Regions from separate parts of the Homo sapiens genome. Here region 2 is linked to region 1. The links come from fine-mapping of genetic effects on gene expression. Tissue or cell type: whole blood. Region 1 holds a variant in brackets; the other region holds the start of a gene. All regions are shown on one strand. Distances are from middle to middle.

Region 1 (5,000 bases):
GCAAAGCCTCCAACTTTATTCTTTCTTTTCAAAATAATTTTGGCTATTATAGGTCCTTTACATTTCTACAGATATTCTGCTTGTTAATTTCTACCCCTCAAAAATGTACTGGGATTTTGATTGTGATTATATCAAATATATAGATCAATCTTGGAAGACTAGATCTCTTTGTAATTTTATAATTTATAATTTTTAATCTTCCAATCTAAAAACAGGTAATATCTTTCCAATTATTTAGGTCTTCTTTAATGTTTTGTAGTTTTCTGTGTAAAGGTCTTGCATGTCTTCTGTGAGATTTATTCCTAGGTATTTGATGATTCTCTTTTTCTTTGCTTTTTATTTTTATTTTATTTTATTTTTTATTTTTTGAGACAGAGTCTTGTTCTTGTTGCCCAGGCTGGAGTGCGATGGCGCAATCTCGGCTCACTGCAATCTCTGCCTCCTGGGTTCAAGCGATTCTCCTGCCTCAGCCCCCCAAGCAGCTGGGATTATAGGCGCCCTTTCTTTGCTTTTTAAATTATATTTTAAAAAGTTTCATCTTCTAATTGTATATAGAAACACAATAGACTGGGCATAGTGGCTCATGCCTGTGAACCCAGCACTTTGGAAGGCTGAGGCAGGAGAATCATTTGAGCCAAGGAGTTCAAGGCCAACCAGGGCAACATGGCGAAACCCTATGTCTACAAAAAAATACAAAAATTAGCCAGGTGTGGTGGCAAACACAGGTAGTCCCAGCTACTTGGGAGTCTGAGGCAGGAGGATCGCTTGAGCCCAGAAGGTCGAGGCTGCTGTGAGCCATGATCACACCATCATACCACTGCACTCCAGCCTGGATGACAGTGCAGGACACTGTCTCAAAAAAAAAAAAAAGTCCAGGCGAGGTGGCTCATGCACTTTGGGAGGCCGAGGCGGGTGGATCACCTGAGCTCAGGAGTTCGAGGACCAGGCTGGTCAACATGGTAAAACCCCGTCTCTGCTAAAAATACAAAAATTAGCCAGGTGTGGTGGGGGGCGCTTGTAATCCCAGCTACTCAGGAGGCTGAGGCAGGAAAATCCCTTGAACCCGGAGGCAGAGGTGGCGGTGAAACAAGATCGCACCATTGCACTCCAGCCTGGGTGACAAGAGTGAAACTCCATCTCAGAAAAAAAAGAAAGAAAGAAAGAAAAAAAAACCATAATAGATTTTTATATATTTACCTTGGTCCCCACAAATTTACTTGTTAATTTTAATAATTTTTTAAAATATCTTGCTGAACTCACTTATTAATTTAATCGTTTGTAGATTCTTTTTTTTTTTTTGAGACAGGGTCTTGCTCTGTCATCCAGGATGGAGTGTGGTAGTGCCATCTTGGCTCATGGCAGCCTTGAACTCCCAGGCTCAAGGGATCCTCCCACTTCAGCCTCCTGAGTAGCTGGGACTACAGGCATCTGCCACCATGCCTGGCTAATTTTTGTATTTTTTTGTAGAGATAGGTTCTCACTATGTTGCCCAGGTTGGTCTCGAACTCCTGGGCTCAAGAGATCTCCTAAATTAGGCCTCCCAAAGTGCAGAGATTACAGGCCTGAGCCACCTTCCTGGCCAGTTCTTTTGGATTTCCTGCATATACAGTCCTATAATCTAAAATGATGACAGTTTTAGTTCTTCCTTTCCAACCTTTATACCTTTATTTCTTTTTACTGCCTTATTATACTTGCCAAGACCTCCAGTACAATGTGGAAGTGATGATATGATGACATGTTCCTAATCTCAGAGGGACTGCATTTAAATTTAACCCCAAAGTGATTTTAGATATTTTTTTTAATCAAGGGTATCTTAATGAAGCTTAATGGAGCTCCCCGCTATCCCTAATTTGATGAGAGTGTTGATTTTTATCAATCTTTTTCCTTTGATTGAGATAATCATATGGATGTTCTTGTTATCTGTTTATTTATTTATTTATTTTTTTGGAGACAGAGTTTCACTCTTGTTGCCCAGGCTGGAGTGCACTGGCGCGATCTTGGCTCACCACAACCTCCGCCTCCCAGGTTCAAGCAATTCTCCTACCTCAGCCTCCTGAGTAGCTGGGATTACAGGCATGCACTACCATGCCCGGCTAATTTTGTATTTTTAGTAGAGACGGGGTTTCTCCATGTTGAGGCTGGTCTCGAACTCCTGACCTCAGGTGATCCGCCCACCTCGGCCTCCCAAAGTGCTGGGATTACAGGCGTGAGCCACCGCGCCCGGCCTTTGTTATCTGTTTATATGCTGAATTTCATTGATTGATTTGCAAATGTTAAACCACCTTGCATTCCTGGAAGAAGGCCTTGTTCATGAAGTATTATCCTTTTATATATTGCTTATTCAGCTTGATAATTTTTTTTTTTTTTTTTGGGACAGGGTCTCACTGTGTCACCCAGGCTAGAGTGCAGTGGTGTGATCATGGTTCACAAAAAAAATTTTTTTAGTTACTTATTTTCCAGCCGGTGTGCGGTGGCTCATGCTATAATCCCAGCACTTTGGGAGGCCGAGGCGAGTGGATCACCTGAGGTCAGGAGTTCAAGACCAGCC[T/G]GGCCAACATGGTGAAACATCGTCTCTACTAAAAATACAAAAAAATGCCTGTAATCCCAGCACTTTGGGAGGCCGAGGCGGGCGGATCACGAGGTCAGGAGATCGAGACCATCCCGGCTAAAACGGTGAAACCCCGTCTCTACTAAAAATACAAAAAATTAGCCGGGCGTAGTGGCGGGCGCCTGTAGTCCCAGCTACTTGGGAGGCTGAGGCGGGAGAATGGCGTGAACCCGGGAGGCGGAGCTTGCAGTGAGCCGAGATCCCGCCACTGCACTCCAGCCTGGGCGACAGAGCGAGACTCCGTCTCAAAAAAAAAAAAAAAAAAAAAATACAAAAAAATTAGCTGGGCGTGGTGGGGCACAGCTGTAGTCCCAGCTACTCGGGAGACTGAGGCAGGAGAATTGCTTAAACCTGGCAGGCGGAAGTCGCAGTGAGCTGAGATTATGCCACTGCACTCCAGCCTGGGCAATGAAGTGAGACTCCCTCTCAAAAATAATAATAATAATAATAATTACTTATTTTCTTTAGTGTCATATACTCAAGGCTTTCTTCTTTTCTAAAATATGCATGTGGTGGTATAAATCTCCCTCTGGAAACTGTGTATCTTATGAGTTTCGATATGTCATATTTTTGTAATCATAAATTTAAAAATATTTTCTAATTTCCATTATAATTTCTTCTTTGGCCTAAGAGTTATCTAGAAGCATGTTGCTTAATTTCCAATATTTTGGAATCTAGTTATGTTTTTGTTTTGATTCCACATTAATTCTGGGTCAGAGTATATAATCTATGATTTCGTCTTTTAAAATTTATTGATACTTGCATTATAGCTCAACATTTCATTTATTTTGGTAAATGTTTCATGTGCATTTGAAATAATGTATTTTCTGCAGTTGTTGGGTATAGAGCTCTACATAAGTCAATTAGATCAAGTTGATTAATCATGTTATTTAAATCTTCTAAATCCTTACTAATTTTTTTGTCTGCTTGTTCTAACAGTTGTTGAGAATTGTGTTAGAATTTCTAACTGGTCTGGGCATGGTGACTCATGCCTATAATTCCAGCACTTTGGAAGGCTGAGGTGGGAGGATCACTTGAGCTCAGGAGTTGGAGACCAGCTTGGCCAACATAAAAAGACCCCATTTCTAAAAAATAAATACAATTACTTACTATTTAATTGTAGGTTTGCCTATTACTCCTTTTAGTTCTGTCATCTTTTATTTTGCATATTTTGATGCTATATTATTAGGTGCCTATAAATTTAGGATTGTTTTACCTTTCTGTGGAATCAAGTCTTTCATCATTATAAAATGTCCCTCTTTATTTCTCCTTCCTTCCTTCCTTCCTTCTTTTCTTCCTTCCTTCCTTCCTTCTTTCTTTCCTTCTTTCTTTCTTTTTTTGACAGAGTTTCACTCCCGTCACCCAGGCTGGAGTGAAATGGCATGATCTTGGCTCACTGCAACCTCCGCCTCCCAGGTTCAAGTGATTCTCCTACCTCAGCCTCCCGAGTAGCTGGGATTACAGGTGCCTGCCAGTACACCTGGCTAATTTTTGTATTTTTAGTAGAGACGGGGTTTCACCATGTTGGCCAGGCTGGTCTCAAACTCCTGACCTCAGGTGATCTACCCACCTTGGCCTCTCAAAGTGCTGGCATTACAGGCGTGAGCCACCGCACCCAGCCATCCTTCTTTATTTCTAATATACTTCTTCTTCTTCGTTTTTTTTTTTTTTTTTTTTGAGAGAGTCTTGCCCTGTTGCCCAGGATGGAGTACAGTGGCGAGATCTTGGCTCACTGGAACCTCCATCTCCCGGGCTCAAGCCATTCTCCTGCCTCAGCCTCCTGAGTAGTGGGGATTACAGATGTGTGGCACCATGCCCAGCTAATTTTTGTATTTTTAGTAGAGATGGGGGTCCGCTCTGTTGGCCAGGCTGGTCTCGAACTCCTGACCTCAAGTGATCTGCCCACCTTGACCTCCCAAAATGCTGGGATTACAGGTGTGAGCCACTGTGCCTGGCCCTTTTTTGGTTTTGTTTTGTTTTAAAGACAAGGTCTTACTCTGTGTCCCAGGTTGGAGTGCAGTGACACAATCACAGCTCACTGTAACCTCAAACAATCCTGAGCTCAAGCAATCCTCCTACCTCTGCCTCCCACATAGCTGGGACCACAGGTGTGCATCACTATGCCCAGCTCCCACCCATTTATGTCAACCCTTCTGTGTCCTTATATTTAAAATATGTCTCTTTTAACAAACTCTAGTTGTTTTTTTTCCAAAATACAATCTGACAATATTTTTTTAAATTGGAGAATTTAGTCCATTCATAATCATTGTAATTACTGATGTAGCAGGCTACCAACTTGTCATCTTGCTTTTTGCTTTCTCTTTGTCCCATCTGTTTTTATTCCTGTATTCTTTCTTTCTTGTCCTCTTTTGGATTATTTAAATAGTATTTT
Region 2 (5,236 bases), 120 kb after region 1:
TAACCCAGGCTGGTGTGCAGTGGTGCAATCGTGACTCGAACGGCAGCCTCAAACTCCTTGGCTTAAGTGATCTTCCCACCTTAGCTTCTTGAGTAGCTGGGACTACAGGCACATGCCACTGTGCCCCACTCATGTTTAAAAAAATTTTTTTCTTTGTAGGAACGGAGTCTTGCTATGTTTCCCAGGCCGGTCTCAAACTCCTGGCTTCAAGCAATCCTCCCCCATCTTGGCCTCCTAAAGCACTGGAATTACAGGTGTGAATCATCATGCCCAGCCCCTCAGTTCTTAATAGAAACAATTATTAATATAAGCTAAGAAGAAATAAACTTTACAATATGTATTAATAGCTATTATATATGAACAAAACCTCACAACTGTACAGATATCCAAGGAGATGTGAATAAATTGAATTATGTCTTTCCTGATAGAAAACTAAAGCAAGCCTTTTTCTAAATTAATCTGCCACTCTAGTGAAAGAGCACCAGGAATACATCTGCAGTTGAACAAATTGGGTATATTACTCCTGCACTCTGGGGAATTTCAATAAGAGGGTGCTAGAAAGGACTTATAGGAGGATTTGTGCCCATGTTCAGTGATTTCAGTCAGGGTTTAGGGAAGCCAGGCTTCTCTCTGGCTTGGATGCTGTCAGAGGTGGGGGTATGTCTATGACGGACTATCTTAATGAGTCTTGCCCAGAAGGAGAGAAGATTAGTTGGAGGCTAATGCTGTAATTGGTAAGGAAACAACAGTCACTCTCTTATGGGAGAAAGAGGGATGTTTCATGCCTTTTGTGGTTTGGACAGTGTTCACCTTTGCCAGCATTCAGATGTGACGATGGAGTGGTTCTGTTTCTGTCTTGCTCCCTCACGGTCACAGAGTGACCTTGTCCGATGCTGATGTTCTCTGAAATTGTTTATATTCAACAGAATACCAAGGCCAGCTCCCAGATGTGCAGGGATGTATAAATTAAACGCAATTTAAATCTAAATTTCCAGTTTTGTGTTTGTTTTATGTGAGAACTTGAAAAAATATATCTAAGTTGGGTGTCTGAACAAATAAACATTAGAGAAGAGCTGAGAAACCAAAGAGAGAAAATTGTGAAATCTAAAAGACTGAAAAGTGTTGATAAATTTGACTACAAAAAATTAGTCTTTGTCCTGGGTGCAGTGGCTCACGCCTGTAATTCCAGCGTGATTTGGGAGGCCAAGGTGGGCAGATCACTTGAGTCCAGGAGTTCAAGACCAGCCTGGGCAACATGGCAAAACTCCACCTCTACCAAAAATACAAAAATTAGCTGCGTGGTGGCGCAGGCCTGTGGTTCCAGCTACACAGGAAGCTGAGGATGGGGGATGGATTAAGCCTGGGAGGTCGAGGCTGCAGTGAGCCAATCAAACCACTGCACTCCAGCCTAGGCGAGTGAGACCTTGTCTAAAAGACCAAACAACCACAAAAATAAGTCCTTGTCCAGCAAAAATCACCTTTACACAGGTTTGCAAGACAGACCACAGATAAAACATTTTCAATGCATTTAAGAAAAGGGTTGATGTCCCTAATAAACTAAAAATGAATAACCTACCTACTAATCAATATAAAAAGAGTACTTTTCAGAATCGTTTTAGATTTTTACAACGACATGTGCCATTAAAAACAATAAAAGAAAAAAACCCGGCTGGGGGCGGTGTCTCACGCCTGTAATCCAAGTACTTCAGAAGGCCGAGGCTGGAGGATCGCCTGAGGTCAGGAGTTCGAGACCAGCCTGGCCAACATGGCGAAACCCAGTCTCTACTAAAAATACAAAAATTAGGTGGGCATGGTGGTGTGCGCCTGTAATCCCAGCTACTCCGGAGGCTGAGGCAGGAGAATCGCTTGAACCCGGGAGGCGGAGGTTGCAGTGAGCTGAGACCGTGCCTGGCACTCCAGCCTGGGCGACAAAACGAGACTCTGTCAAAAAAAAATAATAATAAATAAGAAAAAGAAAGAAAGAGGGAAGGACGGGAAGGAAGGGAAGGGAAGGGGGGAAGGAAGGGAGGCAGGGAGGAGGGGGAGGGGGGAGGGGGAAGGAGGGGGGAGGGGGAAGGAGAGGGGGAGAGGGGAGGGAGGAAAGAGGGGAGGGGGGAAGGAAGGAAGGAAAAAAACAAAACACAACTGGAAAACCCTAGGACTTGAACCCAGGGAAAGCGTTAGGGGGTAAGGGGACTACACTTCCCGTGAAGCTCCGCGGCGGCTTCCCGTGAGGCCCCGCGGAGGCTTCCTGAGAGGTCCTGCGCGCTTTCCGCGCCAGCTTCAGTGTCAGCTCGCGAGCCCTGGCGTCGCGTAGGAGGGAGGATGGAGAGCGGCGACGAAGCGGCCATCGAGAGGCACCGCGTCCACTTGCGCTCCGCCACATTGCGCGACGCCGTACCCGCCACACTGCATCTGCTGCCCTGCGAGGTTGCGGTGGACGGGCCCGCCCCGGTGGGGCGCTTCTTCACGCCCGCCATCCGCCAGGGCCCCGAGGGTGAGCCCTGCGGCCGGACTACGGCTCCCGGCAGCCCCCGCGCCGGCCTGCGCGCTTCTCATCGCCTGGGCTCCTGGGGATCGTGGTCCGTCCGGAGGTGGCGGGAGGGCAGCTCCGGGCTCGACCCAGCGTGGGTCCTGCCTGAGGCCCTTTGCGCCTCCCGCTCCAGGACTCGAAGTGTCGTTTCGGGGCCGCTGTCTACGGGGAGAGGAGGTGGCGGTGCCGCCTGGCCTCGTGGGATACGTGATGGTGACAGAAGAGAAGAAGGTGTCGATGGGGAAGCCAGACCCCTTGCGGGATTCCGGGACTGACGACCAAGAGGAGGAGCCGCTGGAGCGGGACTTCGTGAGCAAAGGGATAGGGTTGAAAGGGGGTGCGGGCGGGAGCTGTAGTCCCGATGCTGAGCCAGGCCCCTTCCCCAGGACCGCTTCATTGGAGCCACTGCCAACTTCAGCCGCTTCACCCTGTGGGGTCTGGAGACCATCCCTGGCCCGGATGCCAAAGTGCGTGGGGCCTTAACTTGGCCCAGCCTTGCGGCAGCGGTGAGTAGACGAGGAGTTCCGTCTTGCCCCCGGGTGGATGGGCTGGGGAGCACAATTGCGCAGACGGAGCCTGGAGGATTCTACTGGGTAGTGTGTGGGAAGCGTAGCTCCCTGACCACTCTTCCTAGCATGTCTAGAAGCGGTTATTCTGAACAGCTGGGTCCTTCCTCGGGTATGGGGGCCAGCTTGCCGCCCTGTCTTACAAGTCCAACAGTAGAGGCGACTCCTGTTGCAGATTCACGCACAGGTGCCCGAGGACTGAGAACCAGAGCTTGAAATTCAAAGCTGCGATCCCTTCACAGCAGTAAACCAGCTCTTTGGAACCGATTCCATCACCCCAATAAAGGAGCTCTTCACAGCACCTGTGAGTCTGGGCGCCTTAGAGCCCCTAAGCCAGCATGGGCCCTTTCCCCCTCCCCACCAAGAACTTTGCATGGCTCTGGCATATAGAAACAATTTATTGCCGGGGGCAATAGGGGTAAGAGAAGCCAGAAATTTTTGCAGCCAGCACCCACCCCACCCCCAACTTCTACTTTACAAAAGAAATTTTTACAATCACCAGCCCTCTGTACAGAGCTCCCCCATCCGGATCCCTTCTCACTGTACACAGCTGCCTGGCTCCCTCTGGTCCCTGCTTCAGAGGAGGCCTGGGCCTGTGGCCAGCTGACCTTGGAGTTGGTCTGAGCCCGGAGCTCGCCTTGGTGCTGGGCACCAGTGGGCCCCTGCCAGGCCTGTCCTCTCCTTTTTGAGCTGTCCTCAGCCCCATCTCCCTTAGAGTGCTTTGTGGGAGCTGCAGTGGGGGCGGGGTGGGCTATCAGCCCCAGTCCTGCTGCCGTCTTGGCACTGCAGTGGGCAGTGTCTGGTCACCACTTCCCCCTCTTGCTCCAGTCCTTGGGAGTGAAGTGCAGACACTTGGAGTCGATCCGCAGGAGCCGCTTGAGCATGGCCCGCTCATGGCCATCCACGATGTCCTCTGACAGTGTGAGGATGTACTGGCCCTGGGCAGAGGAGATGGGTTCAGCAGGTGGTCAGCCCACAGAGGACTGCACTCTGCATCCCACACACCTGTCTCCCCTGCCTGCCTCCCTACCTTGTAGTAGTTGATGAGATTGAGGTACTGCAGAGTGGAGATGACATCCTCCTTCTTGATGCTGGTGATTTCACTAATCTCACTGTGGGAGAGCACAGGTCAGGTTCCCTGAGGACCTTTATCTGTCCCCAGGAGCCCTGAGAGAGAAAGCCCAGGAACAGACAAGCCATGCCATGTACCCCCAGGTAGACAGCGCCAGGCTCACTTGATGGTGATCTGTGGCCTCTCCCCGCTCTCCGACTTCAGCCCCATCAGGATCTCCAGGATGGTCTGGGACCAGTAGCTTCGATAGGATAGGAGGCCAAGGTCTGAGAGGGGCTTCTCAGGGGTCCCTGTTTTCCCTTCCACTTTGGAGAGTTCATAGCCTAAAGCAATGGAGCAGGAGAGGGTGAGTAAGAGGTCACAGATGAACATAAGCAACATTTAAAAACACAGGTTGCCAAGGCAGGCTGCCTAGTTCCTATCATGGCCCTGCCACTTGGCAGTTCTATGCCCTCCACTTCTCTGTGCCTCAGTTCCCTCAGGAAGAACTGAGTATTCACTCTTTCCGTGCGCTGAGCACAGTGGAGGGCATGAGGGCACTGAGAGGAGCAGCTGCAGTCAACCATGAGGGTGATCAGAGGCCAGTGAAGGCTTATGGGCAGGGGATGCAGAGAAAATGGCTCATGGGAAGAAGGGGCCTCCAATTTTCCTTTGCCATCCCGGGCTCTGTGTCTAGCCATGTAAGGAAGTGGAGACAGATTCCTGTCTCTAATCCAGACCTGAGAATGCTTGAATTCTCAAAGTCCTCCTAGCTGGGACCTTGGGAGTGTCACCTGCTGTAAGACTTGAGTGGCCTGACTGGGTGGTTGTGAGGATGCAAGGAGAAAAGGTGCACCAAGGTGCTTCCTAAGTCGGGGAGACCATTCCTGGGAGCCACGTGACTGACCCCCACCATGGCTCTTTCCCTCCAACTCGTGCTGATAGCTGGCCGCTGGGAGGCCGTCCCCAGTGAGATCCTCAGACCCTGCACAGCCCTGAGTGGCTTCACATCTCTTGGTCAGTGTCTTCATTCTCCCCAGTCAGGGACCTGGGATGTTTGTTACTTCTAGAAGCCCTTCCTCACCC

Evidence for each region. PIP is the estimated chance that this variant, and not a neighbour inherited with it, causes the effect.
Region 2: RNASEH2C starts here. The variant in region 1 is fine-mapped to the expression of RNASEH2C in whole blood (INTERVAL, PIP above 0.99).

What each region holds. Positions count from the first base shown.
Region 1 is chr11:65,837,103-65,842,102 of GRCh38, reverse strand. All of the region lies in intron 1 of SNX32 (sorting nexin 32), which reads right to left. Among named protein-coding and RNA genes, the nearest start is that of SNX32, 5.6 kb to the right of the region's middle. The variant T/G (reference allele first, on the strand shown) is at 2,549.
Region 2 is chr11:65,717,848-65,723,083 of GRCh38, reverse strand. RNASEH2C (ribonuclease H2 subunit C) reads left to right here and starts at 2,286. Exons shown (of 4, transcript NM_032193.4): 1 at 2,286-2,497; 2 at 2,667-2,842; 3 at 2,920-3,039; 4 at 3,275-5,236. The coding sequence starts at 2,326. The coding sequence ends at 3,301. It overlaps KAT5 (lysine acetyltransferase 5), which reads right to left. Exons shown (of 13, transcript NM_182710.3): 11 at 4,335-4,494; 12 at 4,130-4,211; 13 at 3,480-4,037. The coding sequence ends at 3,903. RefSeq lists an enhancer at 2,141-2,210 and a silencer at 2,361-2,600.